Linked DNA regions of Homo sapiens: region 2 is linked to region 1. Evidence: fine-mapped expression QTL. Tissue or cell type: whole blood. Region 1 holds a variant in brackets; the other region holds the start of a gene. All regions are shown on one strand. Distances are from middle to middle.

Region 1 (8,000 bases):
GTGCTGTGCCTGCAATCCTTCCGTGCGCCTGCCAGGCGGGACAGTGGGGAGGGTGGTCGGGGGTGTCTGTGTGGGCCGTGGGCAACTGAGCTTGTACACATGGGTGCCTTCTGTCGGAGGACTGGCTCAGGTGCTCTGTGCCGGTTGCTTGGAGCAGGGGCTGCGGGACCCCAGGCCCCTTGGGGAAGAGCAGATAGGACCAAGCCTAGCATGAGGAGGCCAGGTGTGTGGGGCCCGGGTGTGCAAGTGCTGGGCCTGCCAGTGTGGATGTGCCTGGAGCCCCTTCGCCAGGCGGCTTTCACTGACGGTGCTGGCCAGGGCAGCAGGGCCGGTTTGGCGACCTGGAGGTGGATATGGGTAGTGGCTGCCCAGCCCAGCCAACCCTGTCCCCTTGGGGCATTCTCTCGAGGCTGCTGGGTGTCCTGGCAGGCACGTCCTGTGGGGTCAGCACGCCGGCTGCAGCGCAGGGTGGGCCTGAGATCGGGTGCCGGGCCCCCCATCTCCACCTGTCTGGACACGCACCCCTGGCCTGTCCTTGCAGCTTCCTCCCGACATCCCTTGGCGGTGTCTGTGTCTCGGCCCCAGCCCCAGCCCTCCTTTCCTGGGGCACCCTCCCAGCCATCTGGTATTGGGGCTGCCCCCATTGCCTAGTCCTGGGCCCAGGGCCAGCCCACTCTGGGCTGGCTTTACTTGTCTGTTCCTAATGGCAGGGCGTCCCAGGAACAGCCCCATAAGAGCTGGTAGAAACAGGAGGGAGTCCTTGTCAGCAGGCATCTTCGAGCTTTTTGTTTTGTTTTGTAAAAAGCGGTTAACCAGCAAGTTACATAAAAGCTTATTTGTTCCCACTGAATTTTCCACACCTCACACGTGAGTCCCAGCCATGCAGTGCTTGTGAGGGAGCATCACCCCTTGCCGCCTGGCTGGGCGGGGCCCTGGGCTCAGAGGGGTCAGCCACAGAGGAAGCGCCTGTCCTGACGTGTAGCGGCCAGGACCTGGGCGCTGGAGAGGGGCCAGCTGGGTGAAGACGGCTCCCGGGGGCACTGGCGCACACGAGGTGGGGTCTCTGTCCAGCCTGGGTAGGCATGAGCTGAGCTCGAGTGAGGGCCCTGCCTGCCCACAGCACGGGGCCCCAGCGCTCTAACCCGGCCATTTGCCCGTGCAGCCTGTTGCGCTGTCCCCACCTGCGGGGCCTGCAGATGGCTGCGTGTGGCTCACTAACCTAAAGCATGTGTTTCTTCCCTCTGCTGTCCACCGCTCTGGTAGGCACTTACCTGGGTAAGTAGTTTTTGTGCTACTGGCCAGCCCTGGGCGCTGGGCCTTGGCTTGTGGCAGGTGCCCTGAGGTATGGCTGTTCCTGCTTGGGAGCGCCGCAGATCAGGCACCTGGGCCCCCACCTGACCCTGCCCGGCAGAGCTAAGCAAACTGGCAGGGAAAGGCTGACCCAGGGCTCCAGGGCCCCAGTTGGCCCCCAGGGGAGTGCCCCAAGTTAGGAGGCAACTGCAGGTGGGGAGGGGCTGGACAGGCTGCTTCTGTTCCTTAAGGGATGGGCCTCAGCTAAGCAGCGTTTCTGGAGCTGGCAGGTTGCTCCGATGCCCCTGGGCCCTGGCACCTGACTGAGTTGAGTATGACATCCTGTCCTCTCTGAGCTGGTCCTGCTGGGAGCCGAGCCATCCTGGGACCAGCTCCCACATGCACACGCCCACACCTACACACAGGGCAGTGGGGAAGGGCAGTGAGTGGGGGAGGGCAGCGGCGGTCCTGGGCCCAGCTGGGGGTGACCAGGAGCATGGACCCCGCTTCTTGGCCCAACTCCCGCAGTGCCCCTTGGGCTCCTCACCCTGCACTGTGGGAAGTCAGAGGCCTCTGGCACCCCATCCCCAAGCACATGCCAGGGTGGCTGGGGCCCAGCCAGGGCAGTGGGTGGTGACCTGTTTCTGGCCGGGGCTGGCGGCTCTCTCAGAGCCTTAGGAAAAAGCCCGGCCTCCTGGTGGGGCAGTGCCGGCCACAGCGTGGCTGCCCTGCAGAGGGGCTTGTGCCGCTGCTGGACTGACAGCCTTGCGAGGCTTTGCTTGTCTCGGCACGGCAGGCAAGTGGGTGGACAGCCCCGGCCCCTGTGCAGGGAGGTGACTGTCGGGTCCAAGGCTCCTGGCCTCCTGCCTGGAGCCCAAGCCAATGTGTCTCTTGCTGGCCAGAGAGCTGTGGGGCCACCAGGCGGCCCAGGACCCGGGGATGCGAGGCCCCACGTCCCCCAGGCCCATCCTGGGTGTGGGCTGTGGCTTGGTTGGCAGATGGCCCCGGCCCATTGTCCCAAGGTGGCTGAGGCCGTGGTGGGCGGTGGGAGTGCAGGACGCGCTCTCTCGGGGCCTCATTTCTCTCCTCCATTTCTCATCAGGTCTGGCAAACCACGGACAGGCCAGGCACATGGTAAGAGGAACAACCCATGATGGGGTACGGTGCGCTCACCCATGAGCTCTCTGGGGTGTTGGGAAGAGGCCTGGCCAGCCCTGCCAGGTGCCACGTGGAAGCTTCCAGGAGGCCTGGCAAGACCAGAGGGGCTGCAGCATGTGGGGGCCATGGCCCCTGTGCCAGGCCCAGCGGTGTGCGGCCGACCAGCCCTCAGGGCTGCCCTGGGCCAGGCTGGGGGTCCGTGTAACTCACTGGGGTGGTGGGGGGTTGGCCAGGCACAGCACCTCCCAGCGGGAGCCCTGCAGGTTGAGGTGGAGCTGGCCCTTGGCTGGCTGCCCAGGAAGTGCACCCCCTCTGCAGGGACCAAGCCGGAACCTCCTGCTCAACGGGAAGTCCTACCCCACCAAAGTGCGCCTGATCCGGGGGGGCTCCCTGCCCCCAGTCAAGCGGCGGCGGATGAACTGGATCGACGCCCCGGATGACGTGTTCTACATGGCCACAGAGGAGACCAGGTGGGGCCTTCCCAGGGCAGGCGGGAGGGCTCCGCACAGCGTCCCGGCCCTCACCACCACCTCTGCCCACAGGAAGATCCGCAAGCTGCTCTCATCCTCGGAAACCAAGCGTGCTGCCCGCCGGCCCTACAAGCCCATCGCCCTGCGCCAGAGCCAGGCCCTGCCGCCGCGGCCACCGCCACCTGCGCCCGTCAACGACGAGCCCATCGTCATCGAGGACTAGGGGCCGCCCCCACCTGCGGCCGCCCCCCGCCCCTCGCCCGCCCACACGGCCCCTTCCCAGCCAGCCCGCCGCCCGCCCCTCAGTTTGGTAGTGCCCCACCTCCCGCCCTCACCTGCAGAGAAACGCGCTCCTTGGCGGACACTGGGGGAGGAGAGGAAGAAGCGCGGCTAACTTATTCCGAGAATGCCGAGGAGTTGTCGTTTTTAGCTTTGTGTTTACTTTTTGGCTGGAGCGGAGATGAGGGGCCACCCCGTGCCCCTGTGCTGCGGGGCCTTTTGCCCGGAGGCCGGGCCCTAAGGTTTTGTTGTGTTCTGTTGAAGGTGCCATTTTAAATTTTATTTTTATTACTTTTTTTGTAGATGAACTTGAGCTCTGTAACTTACACCTGGAATGTTAGGATCGTGCGGCCGCGGCCGGCCGAGCTGCCTGGCGGGGTTGGCCCTTGTCTTTTCAAGTAATTTTCATATTAAACAAAAACAAAGAAAAAAAATCTTATAAAAAGGAAAAAAACCAACCGGTCCTTCCCTGTGTCTTTTGTTCCCAGTCCCTCTCCCTGACTCAGGCCCTGGGCCCCCCACCCCCATCGGGCGGCCCTAGGCTGTGGCTCTGCCGTGGAGCTGGAGGCCCCTGGAGGCCACCTCAGCCAGGACAGCCACCCCAGCCTCTGGGCTCTGTTGCTCTCCCACCTGCCCACAGACCTTCCCCTGCTGGGGCCTGGC[G/A]CGGTGCCCTCTGCCCTCCCCAGGGGGCAGCAAGCGGTTGCAGGGCCCAACCCCCTTCCCCAGCAGAGCTGTGCTGAAACCGTCTGTGCGTCTGTGTCTGCGGCAGCGGTGGGCCGGGGACTGCCTCCCGGCAGGCAGAGCTGGCCCTGCCGAAGACCCTGTGGCTTCCCACCAGGGCAGCCAGTGCAGCTGGGCCAGCGAGGCCTTGGAGTGCTCCAGCCAGAGGCCCAACCTCCTGGCCATGTAGAGCCTGGCCCCAGCCGCCTGAGGGTTTCTGCCCAGAGCTCTGGCCCCCAAGCAGGTGTGCAGTCTCCACAGTGAGAATCTGCTTAGATTTCTGCAAGCACATTCTCAGAAATCCTGCTTGGCCCATCCTCCGGCCGGGGACAGGACTTGCAGGCCGGGGGACAGGTACAGGCCGGGCCACCAGAAGGAGGGGTCCGGTGGATAGCCTGGCTCCAGACCACCCCCCTGGCCGTGCTACCTCAGCCGGCCAGGAGGGGTCCGCCCAGGCCTCGCTCAGGGAGAGTAGCTCCTCTGTCTCTCCCCAGAGCTGTGCCTTTGCTCCCCCAGCCCACCCAGGCGCCCTGTCATGTGGAAATCTCAGCCACGGAATTAAAATAGAAACCACTTCTGCTGTCTCCCAGGAGACAAAGATAAGGGGGCGTCCTGGCCTCCGTGGGAGCCTGTGCTGGGGCCCAGCAGTGACAGGACTAGGTGTCAGGGACTCGGCTGCAGTGCACGTCCCACCCACCCTCCCTGGGCTGTGGCGCCCCCCCACCCAACCCCAGCCCCCACCAGCCAACTCTAATCTGCAGCCAGCATCCGAGTGACCCCACAGCCTGAGGACTTGCCTGTAGTGCGTCATCAGACGGCTGGGAAATCAGGCCCCTGACCTCATGAAGGACACAGCTCCCTCTGAGGCCTTTTCCAACCCTGGGGGTCTGGAGCTCAGTGAAGACCCCAGCTCCCTTGTCTCCCTTCCCCAGGCCTCGGGCTTGCCTCCCAGTGCTGGCTGCAGGGTTCTGGCCTCAGCAGCTCTTCCACCCCCCAGGGCCTGTCCTTTTCTGGAGTCAACATGTGGGCTGTGAGGTGTCCTAGGTCCTGGGCTCTATCCCAAGGGCAGGGAGGCCCTGAGGAGATGTGGGGCCCTTTCCCACCCCAGACACCCTCCCCGGCCAGACACCCAGGCTGCAGTGCCCTCACAGGGCCAAGCTCTGGCCACCGGTGCTGGGTGGGGCCTGGGCTGCTTGTGGGTCTAAACCTGGGCTTAGAAGTGAGTGGGTACCGGCTGGGGGGAGCATTGGCCTTGGTGCCCAGGCCATGAAGGGGTCTCCCAGCTTTGCTATGTCCTCGTTAGGCCCTTCCCTGCTGATGAGACAGCAGCCTGCTTTCTGCACCAGCAACCCCACAGGGGCCGCGGCTCCCCAGGGCCAGGGGCATCTCAGGGTGGCAAGGCCATCATGCTGTCATGCCTGGAGACCTGTCCTGCCAGCTCCGCTCCACCCTGCTAGGGTCCTCTGTCCACCACTCAGCCCAGCCTGGCTTCCCTGCAGTGGAGCTGAGTAGCAGGGGCCTGCTATCTGCCAGTGTCACAGGATGGCGGAAGGGACCAGACCACTGCAGCCCAGGGGTGTGACCCAGCCCCATGCCCAGCCATCAGCCCTGCCAGCTCCCTTCACACCCGCCGTGTCCTGTGCCCCCCTCTCCACTCGGGCCCGTCCCACTGTGTCACTGCCCCTGCCTGTGACCCACCGCAGCCTCAGAGGTGGAGACCAAGGCCACTGCTCTGCACCCATTGATCCTGACCCCTGCCTGCCAGGCCCAGAATAGCCCCGTCGCATTAGGGAGCTTCTGGCCGCTGCCCAGGGACTGCGGCTGGGGTGAGGGCAGTGCAGCAGCTGGCACACTCCTTGTCCCACCCCACCCTCCGTGTGTCTCCAGGGCACCTGGCCAGTGCCGAATGCCATTCCTTTGCTGCCACCCTGGGAGGGGCCTGCCTCTACCCCCATCCACTCTTCTGGCAGGGCTGGGGACCTTGGGGCAGGTGGTCTCCCTCCAGAAGAGCCCTGTGTTCAGCCAGCCCTGTCCTCCAGAGCAAGCCCCACAGGTAGCAAGCCCCACAGGTAGCAAAGTCAGGGAGGGTAATGGCTTAGCCCCAGGCTCCCAAGCTGGGCAGAACAGGGCAGGGAGCTGGAGAGGGTTTGGCAGTGGGCCCATGAATCCAGCCTGGGCAAGGCCCTGCTGTGAGGGACCCCTAGGGACCCCTGGGCCTGCCAGGGAGGAAGGGCTGCCCAGAAAAGGTACTGACTGATGCCTCCTCACCATCTTCTGCCTTGGCTGGCACAGGTCCCAAGTGCAGAGGGGGAGCTGGTCAGGCTGGTCAGTCGGGCGGGGGGGCGGGGGGCATGTTTCTGGCCTGCTGTCACCATGGAAATGGCAGTGGCTGCAGGGTGTGTGTGCAAGGGAGGAGGGTGCTGCCACAGAGAGCCCAGCCAGGACCACCATGAAAGCCAGGAGCACCGAGGGCCTCTGGTTGGCTCACAAACATGCCTGGTGCACCAGGCAGAGGGAACAGGTAGGTCTCCGTGTCCAGCCCACAGCCTCCAAGACACAGGGGGAAGGGTGTCCAGAGTCAGCTGCCCCCATAGGGCCTGATCACTGGGCTTCTGGGATCTGCCTGTCTCCCAGGCCGACGCTCAGCTGGGGCCAGAAGGCTCAGAGAAGGGCCCATGGGGACAGAGCACCAGGAAGCCCGTGGGTGCGGAGGTTCCCCACCTGGGGCCAGGCTCTACGGGGCTCTAGGGCGGAGGCACTGTGGTGAGGCGTGGTCAGGCACGCCCTGGTTGGGAGGAGGCCAGAGTGGGGGTGTGGGGGTGCGGTGACTGGCATGACCCCTCAATCTCCCGCCTGACCCCTCGAGGTCAGGCCCTGGGCCCCCAGGCACGCAGCTGGTCCTGGGCGGTGCGGGAGAAGGGACTGGAGTGTCAGCCCCAGCCCGGGGCACAGAGGGCACGCCCACTCCTTCCCCTCCTTCCCTTCCTAACTCCTCACCGCCTCCCCGGCCGCCCCCTGGGTGGAAGTGCTTGGGGTGGACGCCTTAAGCGCGGATCCCTCGGCGCTGGTGCCCGCCGCCCCTTCCCTGCCTGGGAGGCAGACGCAGACCTCCCCACACCCCCTACCAGCAGCTTCTCGAGCTGTTTCTGGAGGTGGCGGCGCCTTCCTTCCTGAGCCCTGCCCTCCACCCAAGGAGCCTTCAGCACCACAGACAGTGTTGGGGCGGGGCGCGGGCGGGGGCGGAGCGGGACATGGAGACCCGGACAGGGCTGGGGGCCGTGCCCGCCGGGAATCTGACTCCGCTCCCGCGGCGCGGCTGTTGCTATGGAAACCGAGCAACAAAGGGAAGCGGGACAGGCGCCGCGCGCGGCGGGGTGGGGGTGGGGTTCTCCCGGAGCCTGCGACCCCTTCCCGCGGCGGAGCGCAGCCTGGGCGCCCAGGGCCGGGAGTGTTGGACCCCTAGGCCCAAGTCACTAGGGCTCCCCGAGAGCCGAGGGCCAGGCTCCCCGCACCCTGCCCGCCGCCCCGGGGACGGCCCGGCCAGGCGGCCCCGACGTCGCCATGGAAACAGCCGGGGCGCGGGCGGCGCCGCGGTCGCCCGGGCGGGCCCCTGTAGACGCCACCTCCGGCGCGAGGGGCCCGGGGGCGCCAGGCCTGGCCCGGCTGCCCCGCACCCGCCACCCCCGGCAGGTGCGCCCCGCCCCCGCGGCGCCCCCAGGCGGCCCCCAGCCCGGGGGACGGGTTATCGAGGCCCCGCCCCGGCCGCGGAGCCAATGGGCGCGCGGACAGCCGGGCAGGCGGGGCTGGGCGCGGGCGGCGGCGGCCCGGAGGAGAACGGGCGGAGGGCGCGGGCCGACCGGGCGCACCGACCATGGCCTCCAAATGCCCCAAGTGCGACAAGACCGTGTACTTCGGTGAGTGCGTGCCCGCTCCCGGCCCGCTCGGTGCATCCCGCCGCCCTTCGCGGCCAGTCCCGCGCCGCAGAGCCGCGGCGTAACTCGGGGTGCGCCCGGCCCCGGCCCCGGACCGAGGATGCGCGTCCCGGAGGCTGGCTGGCCGCGCTGCCCAAGCGGCTAAAGCCAA
Region 2 (8,000 bases), 51 kb before region 1:
GCTTCTTCACCTCAAGTTTAAAAGTCTCCTTACGATGGCCGGGCGCCGTGGCTCAGGCCTGTAATCCCGGCACTTTGGGAAGCCAAGGCAGGCAGATCGCTTGAGCTCAGGAGTTGGAGAACAGCCTGGGCAACAAAGGGAAGCTCCATCCATACTGAAGATACAAAAATCAGCCGGGCGTGGTGGTGCTCTCCTGTAGTCCCAGCTACTTGGGAGGCTGAGGTGGGAGGATCGCTTGAGCTCAGGAAGTCGAGGCTGCAGTGAGCCGAGATAGGCCCACTGCACTTGAGCCTGGGTGACAGAGTGAGACCCTGTCTCCAAAAAAAAAAAAAAAAAAGTCTTCTACGATTATTTTTAGAAATTACAAAAACATCAAGAGATGAGTGTGTTTGGTTTACAGCAGCAAAGCACGGTTCGGCTGAGGCGGCACCGGCTGACTTCTGCCTGTGAATGGTGAGGAACTGGCACTGACATTTCCATATCCCCTGGCAGGGCATTTCTTACCAGAAGATCAAGGCTCACCGCCAGTATTTGACCCACTGAAAGTCTTTGTTTTGATTTACATCTTTACTGGCTGGACTTAAGATCAGTTTTTGTTGTTGTTGTTAGACAGGGTCTTGCTCTGCCACCCACGCCGCAGTGCAGAGGTGCTATCTCGGCTCACTGCGAACTATGCCTCTCAGGCCTAAGCTATCCTCCTGCCTCAGCCTCTCAAGTAGCAGGGACTACAGGCATGCACCACCACGCCCCGCTAATTTTTATATTTTTCAGTAGAGATGGGTTTTCACTATGTTGCCCAGGCTGGTCTCAAACTCCTGGGTTCAAGTGACCTGCCCAAAGTGCTGGAACTTCAGAGCCAGAGCCCTGGTTTTATACACTTTATTATGTTCCCCTCCCTGCTAGATTGCAAACCCTCTGAGGGCAAAGGTGCTGTTTCCTTACCCTCCAAGGCCTAGAGTGGCCTGTAGCTTGAAGTAGATGTTTAACAAATAATCAATGAGTAAATTATTGTGTTAATCACTTTGTCTTGCTCTGAAATTATCTCAAGCCTTTCATCTCCAAGTAACTTGATATTCTGCCCTTTGCTGTTTATGACTTGATCCAGCCACGGTGCGATTTTGGTGCTTCCGGTTTGCTTGGCTCTTAACTCTTCCTCCCATCCTGCTGTTTTGTCGTCAAGCATTTGAATTCCTGATTGTTGAATTCATGCTGCTATGAAGCTCTGAAAGAAGTCCTGTGGAGTCCTCTTCTGTTTCTTTGGTTGCGTTTTCTTATTTATTTATTTATTTATTTATTTATTTTTTATTTTTGTTTCTTTGAGACGGAGTCTCACTGTGCCGCCCCCAGGCTGGAGTGCAGTGGTGTGGTCTCGGCTCCTGGGTTCATGCAATTCTCCTGCCTCAGCCTCCGGAGTAGCTGGGACTACAGGCACGCGCTACCACACCCAGTTAATTTTTTTGTATTTTTAGTAGAGATGAGGTTTCACTATGTTGACCAGGCTGGTCTCGAACTCCTGACCTCAGGTGATCCTCCTGCCTTGGCCTCCCAAAGTGCTGGGATTACAGGCGTGAGCCACCACGCTCAGCCCAGTTGTGTTTTCTTCCATACTGGGTTTCTCACCGGCCCCTCACACCCTCGATGACTTGTTTTTCTGTTGTTGAATGACATGGATGTGGTCACGTGCCACCTCTCAGCAATGCTCCCACCTCAGCCTCCGGGGATATGCCACTACTTCTGTAGTGCTTTCTGACGTGAAAGCTCTTTCCTGAATGTCTATTCGCTCTGCTACTAAGTGGATGGAGTGGATGGATTTTTTTTTTTTTTTTTTTTTTGGAGACGGAGTCTCGCTCTGTCGCCCAGGCTGGAGTGCAGTGGCATGATCTCGGCTCACTGCAAGCTCCGCTTCCTGGGTTCACGCCATTCTTCTGCCTCAGCCTCCGGAGTAGCTGGGACTACAGGCGCCCGCCACCACGCCCAGCTAATTTTTTCTATTTTTAGTAGAGACGGGGTTTCACCGTGTTAGCCAGGATGGTCTCGACCTCCTGCTCGTGATCCTCCCGCCTCAGCCTCCCAAAGTGCTGGGATTACAGGCGTGAGCCACCGCACCCAGCTGGATTCTTCTTAATTCTTTGTTTTTATTGTTTGACTCACCTGAGGTCTTTGGACTTTGCCTCTGAGCTGGCTTAAGGGCAATCCACCTTGTTCACTGGTCTGGAGTGGGGAGGCAGAGTATGGGTCGGCTGGAGGAGTGGGGCTCTGTGCTCTCTTTTGAGAGTTTACTAAACGTCACTCTGCATGGTGAGGGGTGTGTCCTCTCCGCTGGGGAGGCCTGGCTTGAATTTCAGATTGCCTCCCTGGGACACCAGACCCTGTGCTGTGCTCCCTCAGAAGGACAGCCTTGACTGTCTCCACTCCAGCAGTCAGTTCTCTCCACTCCCACTGGGAGAAGGAGCAAAGGCTGGTGTCTTCAGGAGGCTCCTCTCCAGGCTGGGGCCAGGGAAGAGTGTGCATGTCACTGTCAGGATGTGTCCCAGTGGTGTGGCTGGGTTCTCAGGGTGAAGCTCGTCCATTTCTGGGATGGCAGCGGAAGCAGGCACTACACACGCAGCTTCAGGGGGCTCTCCCCATGCTTCCTAGCTGCCTGGCACTTTCTGGTGTTTCTGGCTAACTTTCTGGCCATGCCAGGAGTTGGTGGAAGGAGATCTCAGGCTGCAGCTTTGCTTTCCTGCTGAGGAGACAGAGGTAGGCTGGGGCTGTAGGACAGGGGAGGCCAGCAGCCCCACCTTCCTTCTGGAGAGACGCTGCCTGTCTGTCATTGCCCCTCTCCTGCACCTGGCCGCTGGCTGGCTGCTCTTCCCTCCCAATCACCAGCAAGCCAGCTCCTGTTCCCTGCAGCCCAGCCCGCAGGATGTGTCCTGGGACCCATAGCCCTCTCTCCCCAGAGACAGCACCGCCCTGCAGCTCGGGTTCCTGGCCCTGTGCTAACCCTGGTGGGGCTTTCCTTACTGGTCTGCTCTGCAGCCATGACATTGTGGCCACCGCTCTCCTTGGGACCCCCACCTGGCTTTCCTCCCAGCACATGCTGTTTCCTACCCACCTGGATGGTGTCCTGTGTGCTGGATTCCCCATGCTGTGTCCCCAGCATCCTGACCATGTCTGTCCCGCCTGCCTAGATCTTGCACCGTGGCCACGGGGCTCCCTCCTGATAGCCCTGAACGCTCCGCTCCATGTCCTACAGAGAGGGATGTCCCAAGTAGATGTCAGCTCCCTCCAGCATCTGAGCAGGCAGGACAGAGACCCACGGTGCTGCTCACATCAGCAGCCTGGAACCCCGAGACAGCTCCTTTTGCTCACCTCCCCCAACACTGATGTTGCACCTGTCTCCAAGCCACTCTGGGACCATCTGTTTCTCTCCATCTGGGAAGCCCCCTTCGCACCTCATGCTCTTCCTGGCTGGGGCGTCTGGGTCACTCACTGGACTCTCCTCTCCTTAGACCTGTGCACAAGCACACACGGGAAGGCATCCTGACAGGTGGTGGGAAGAGAAGGCAGCTGCCTCACTGCGGAAAGAGCACGGCCGCTCCTGGACTCCAGCCCTGTTGGGGCTGGCGGGGTCAGCAGGCGCTGGGTTCCAGCCTCAGGTGGGGTCTTTGGAGGTGGCCTCTGGGCACAGGCACCTCCTCTGCGGCCTTCTCACCAGGTCACGGTTCAGGGAGGCTTTGCCGGCTACGGAGCCTGCCCACACCAAGGCGCGCACGACCACCTGTCCAGAGATGCCACGCGGGCTGGGCGGCGAAGGCCAAGGACACGCCCTGCCTGGTGTCGGGGGCAAAGGTTAGGCCTGGAAGGGAGGTGTGGGGTGGGGACCCCGAGGCCAGGGCTGGGCCGCTGAGCTTCAGGGCCCTTGGGGGGCTCAGGGAGGAATGCCGGAGGACCCCAGCATCAGGAGGAACCCCTGGAGAGCTACGGCAGGACTCACCTGTGGGGCACAGGGAGGGATCACCAGGGAAATGGCCCTTGTGGAGGATCTCCCCTCTACCCCCAGGGCACCAGGGGAGGATCTACCAGGGGGTTCTGGTGGAAGGGCCCACCCGGGAAGCGGCGCGCGGGGAGGACTCGGGGGCGCCGAGAGGAACTGTCCGGGAAGGGGCGCGCGGGCCGCGGGCGGCGCGGGGTCGGTAACGGCCCGTGCGGTGGGCGGCGGCGCCCGAGGCCCCTCCCCGCCGCCCGCGGCCGCTCCTCCTCTTCCTCTCCCGCCCGCGCCGCGGCCCTCCCGTCCCTGCGCGGCCTCGGCGGCCTCGGCGGCGGCGGCGGCGGCGGCGGCGGCAGCAGCGCGGCCCCTTTAAACGCCTGCGGCGCCCCCCGCCCCCGCCATCGCGCCTCCATTTTCCCGGCCGCCCGCGCCGAGCGCCGCGCCCGCCCCGGGCCCCTCCGCCGCCGCCGGCCCGGACATGGCCGCCAACATGTACAGGGTCGGAGGTAAGGCCGCACCGCCTTTATGCCCGGCCCCGACCCGCCCGCAGCCCCCACCCGCCGCCGCTGCCGCCTCCCCCGCCCCTCTGCCCCGCAGGCCCCGCGCCCCCCGCCCGCCCTCGCGGCCCCCGGCTCCTTCCCGAACCGCCCCCCGCCGTGCTCACCCCAACCCAAAATGGCCCCGCGGGTCGGCCCCATCGGGGGCGGGCGGGGCTCGGCGGCCCGGGGGTGGGGGGCGGCCCACCTGTTGGGGCCGAGGGGGCGGCCGCGGGGGTGGCGGGGGGGCGCGGGGCCTGCGGGACATCCGGGGGTCCGGGGCCGGGAGCCCCCAGCGGGAGCACGTGGCCTTGGGAGGCGCCGGCTGCCGGTCTGGGAGCAGGAGTTTTGGGGCTGTGGGGTCTCCCCCGGCCCGCGGCCCTGTGCTGGGACTCCGGTGCATCCCCTCTGGGGATGGGGAGCCCCGGTGAGGGGCCACGTTCCTCCCTAGAGCCCTCCTGCAGCCTGGCCCCGGGGCTTCCCCCAGCAGGGATCCCTCAGGGGGTCTTCAGCAGGGAGCGAGCATCCCGAGCACGCCTCTAAGTCCCCCCAAACTTTTCCCTGCCTCTCGCTCACCTCAGCCCATTCGGGAGGCGCTTTGCAAGGGTTGGGGAGAGGCCGGAGGGCCTCCTGGGCAGGGGCTTCCTCCGTGGGCCCAGCCTCCTGTTGCTCGGGCCCCCCGGGCCTGCAGCTTTGAGCCTTGCCCTCCTTCGTGTGCCTGGGACTCCGTGGGGTCTTTCACAGGAAGGTGGGGGGTCGTGTGCATTCCATCATTCCATCAGCGCCTCCCTCCCCAGGACTCTGAGACCCCTCCCTGCCTGTGACCCTCTCGGGCAGGTGCTCATTACCTTTCCCACCTGCAGCCTGCGCTGCTGGAGGGAGCTGGGGTCACTCCCGCTCTGGCTTGATCCCCATGCCCCTGACCCCGAGTGCCCAGAACACTCTGTGTCTCTCGAGCGTGGCTTCTGCTGCCTTGGACGCCGTGTGGTCTGGCCGGCCAGTCCTGTGACCTTGGGGACGGTGGGAGCCCCCTACATCCCGTCTGTGAGATGGGCGGTCAGTCCGCATCAGCAGCTCTGGGCCTCCCCTGTCCTCTCAGAGGGGCGGTGGGCCTGTACCCCATCCAGCGGCAGCCCCTCCCACAGCCTCATACAGCTTTGCCAGGTCCCTGTGTGGACCCAGGTGCGCTGAGCCCACCCCACGCTCAGGGAGCAGCCTGGGTGCGGGGTCCCTCGAGGGAGGGGCCTGTTCCTTCCTGTTCTTTCTCCCCACCTGGAGACCCCCCTTCCAGCCTGACATGAGGGCCCAGTTTCTCACCCTGGCAGAGAGGATGCCTGCTGCCTGGGCTCCAGCCGGGCCCACTGCGCATGGTTTTGGGATTGGTCCCAAGAAGAGCTCTCCCTGCCCCCACCCATGTTGGGGGTGGGGAGTGGTGGCAGCTTTGGGCTCTAGGGCTGGGGACACCCCGACCCCAACTCATGCCTTCCTAGTGGCTGCATTGCTCGGCCTTCAGGCCTGCCTGCCTGTGATCTTGGCGCCAGCCTGGCTGCCCCCCCTCCAACCTTCCCATGCCTCGGTTTCCCCATGGTGTGGGTGAGGACCTCGTCTCTCAGCCGTCCTTTTGTGCCCTGTGGCAGCTGTGCTGTGGCTGATGAAAGCCAGGACCCTGCCTTGTCCCATCCCGGAGGTGCAGCTCCCCTGGGCCCCACACAGGCTTGGGAGGAGCCCTTCGTGGGGCTGCGCCGCCCTCCCCGAACCCTCTGTCCCCCTGTGCCCGCAGGCCCGTCCCAGGGCCTCACTGACCCACGCACTCCAGTGCTGTGAGGGTGGGTGGCCTGGACTCCTAGGCTGTGGCGGAGGGGCCCCACCATGCCTGGCAGAGATGCTGCTGGTCTCTTTTCCTGTGATGAGGAGCATGGGAGGTTGGGTGCTGTCTGCTGGCAGCACAGCCACGCGTGGGATCCAGACTGCTTCTGCGTGTGCAGTCCGTGGTCACTGTGGCCGGGTGTGCTCGGAGCTGTCAGGCCCCCCACGTGCCCGCCCCGAGGACTTCCTCTCCCTGCAGGTGAGACTGTAGGCCTCCCCCTCTCTACTCTGACTGTCCCTATAGGAGAAGCGGCATTTATCCCTGGCTTCTGGACCGGAACCCTGGGTTCCGGCAGGACCCCGGCAGAGCCCTGTGGTCGCAGTGGGCTGGGCATTGCAGGTTGGCTTCCTGTCTTGGTGCTCGCTCGGGGAGGTGGGCGTCTGGATTCTTGAGCCCCCAGACAAGAAAGAGGAAGGTGTGCAGTGTCTCCTGAGCAGCCTTTGTCCGTCTGTCGCCGGCTGCCTGGCACGGGCTCCATCTGGGTGGCCAGTCCTGGCCTGTGGGAGATGCCGGCAGGGACCCAGCCTGGGAAGGGGCTTGCTCCTGTGCCCCCCCACCCCAGGGACCTTGTGTGTAGAGGCACCAAATTTAGTTAAGAAAAGTACAGGACGCCCAGGCAAATTTGAGTTTCAGATAAACAGAAATTTATTAGTGTAAGTATGTCCCAAATATGGCATGGGACATACTTGTCCCAGAAGATTCTTATCTGACATTCACAGTTATCTGGGCAACCCGTATTTTAGCTGGCAGGCTACTCCGAGGCCCTGCCAGGTTGGGCTAGGCAGGGTGAAGGTGTGGTGGCAGTATTTTTGTGCCAGCTGAGCTGGGTGAAGTGGTGAGCAGGGAGGGAACAGGGCCTGTTTCTTCCCCATGGAGTGCCCTGGCCACGGACAGAGGCCTTCTGTCTGTGCCTGTGAGGGCAGCGGATGGCCTGGGCAAGGGTGGCGGGGTCAGGGTTCCCTGACCTCTGCTTCTCAAGGGTTGTCCATCCCGAGGGCTGGGGAAGGCTTGAAACCTGCTGTGGGATGAGAGGGCCCCAGGGCAACGGCGGGATGTTTCTTCTCTGGGTTGAACATGAAGATGTTAGATAGCATCCAAAACAGGACAGCAGGAATCGGTGCCTGCCAGCCGCCTGCAGCTTGCTCATGTGGGGCTTCTGCTTTTCAGTGGACAGGCCATTACCATTTTGCCTTGGGTGTTTCTGTTTTTCATTGCAAGAGGTTAACACCCCATCTTTTGGATTTTTTTTGTTTAATTTTTTTTTTTTTTTTTTTTTTGAGATGGAGTCTTGCTCTGTGGCCCAAGCTGGAGTGCAGAGGCGCGATTTCGGCTCACTGCAACCTCCGCCTCCCCGGCCCAAGCGATTTCCTGCCTCAGCCTCCCAAGTAGCTGGGACTAGCCAGGCGCCACCAGGCCTGGTTAAGTTTTACATTTTTAGTAGAGACGGCGTTTCTCCATGTTGGTCAGGCTGGTCTGGAACTCCTGACCTCAAGTGATCCACCCGCTTCGGCCTCCGAAAGTGCTGGGATTACAGGCGTGAGCTCATGCCCGGCCTTTTTGTTTTAATTTTAATAAAAGTTGAGGCTGGGTGACAGAGTGAGACTCCGTATCAAAAAAAAAAAAT

What was found. PIP is the estimated chance that this variant, and not a neighbour inherited with it, causes the effect.
Region 2: it holds the start of MTA1, and the variant in region 1 is fine-mapped to the expression of MTA1 in whole blood (TOPMed, PIP 0.94).

Annotation. Positions count from the first base shown.
Region 1 is chr14:105,467,075-105,475,074 of GRCh38, forward strand. It overlaps MTA1 (metastasis associated 1), which reads left to right. Exons shown (of 21, transcript NM_004689.4): 19 at 2,393-2,424; 20 at 2,767-2,918; 21 at 2,991-3,655. The coding sequence ends at 3,141. CRIP2 (cysteine rich protein 2) reads left to right here and starts at 7,747. Exons shown (of 8, transcript NM_001312.4): 1 at 7,747-7,831. The coding sequence starts at 7,789. RefSeq lists enhancers at 3,770-4,633, 6,189-6,721 and silencers at 6,750-6,799, 6,810-6,899, 6,990-7,139, 7,410-7,479, 7,660-7,769. The variant G/A (reference allele first, on the strand shown) is at 3,861.
Region 2 is chr14:105,415,585-105,423,584 of GRCh38, forward strand. It overlaps MTA1 (metastasis associated 1), which reads left to right and starts at 4,243. Exons shown (of 21, transcript NM_004689.4): 1 at 4,243-4,479. The coding sequence starts at 4,452. It overlaps MTA1-DT (MTA1 divergent transcript), which reads right to left and starts at 4,155. Exons shown (of 2, transcript NR_125385.1): 1 at 3,438-4,155; 2 at 1,997-2,725. RefSeq lists enhancers at 2,440-3,109, 5,788-6,455, 6,456-7,125 and silencers at 3,807-3,906, 3,937-3,986, 4,077-4,336.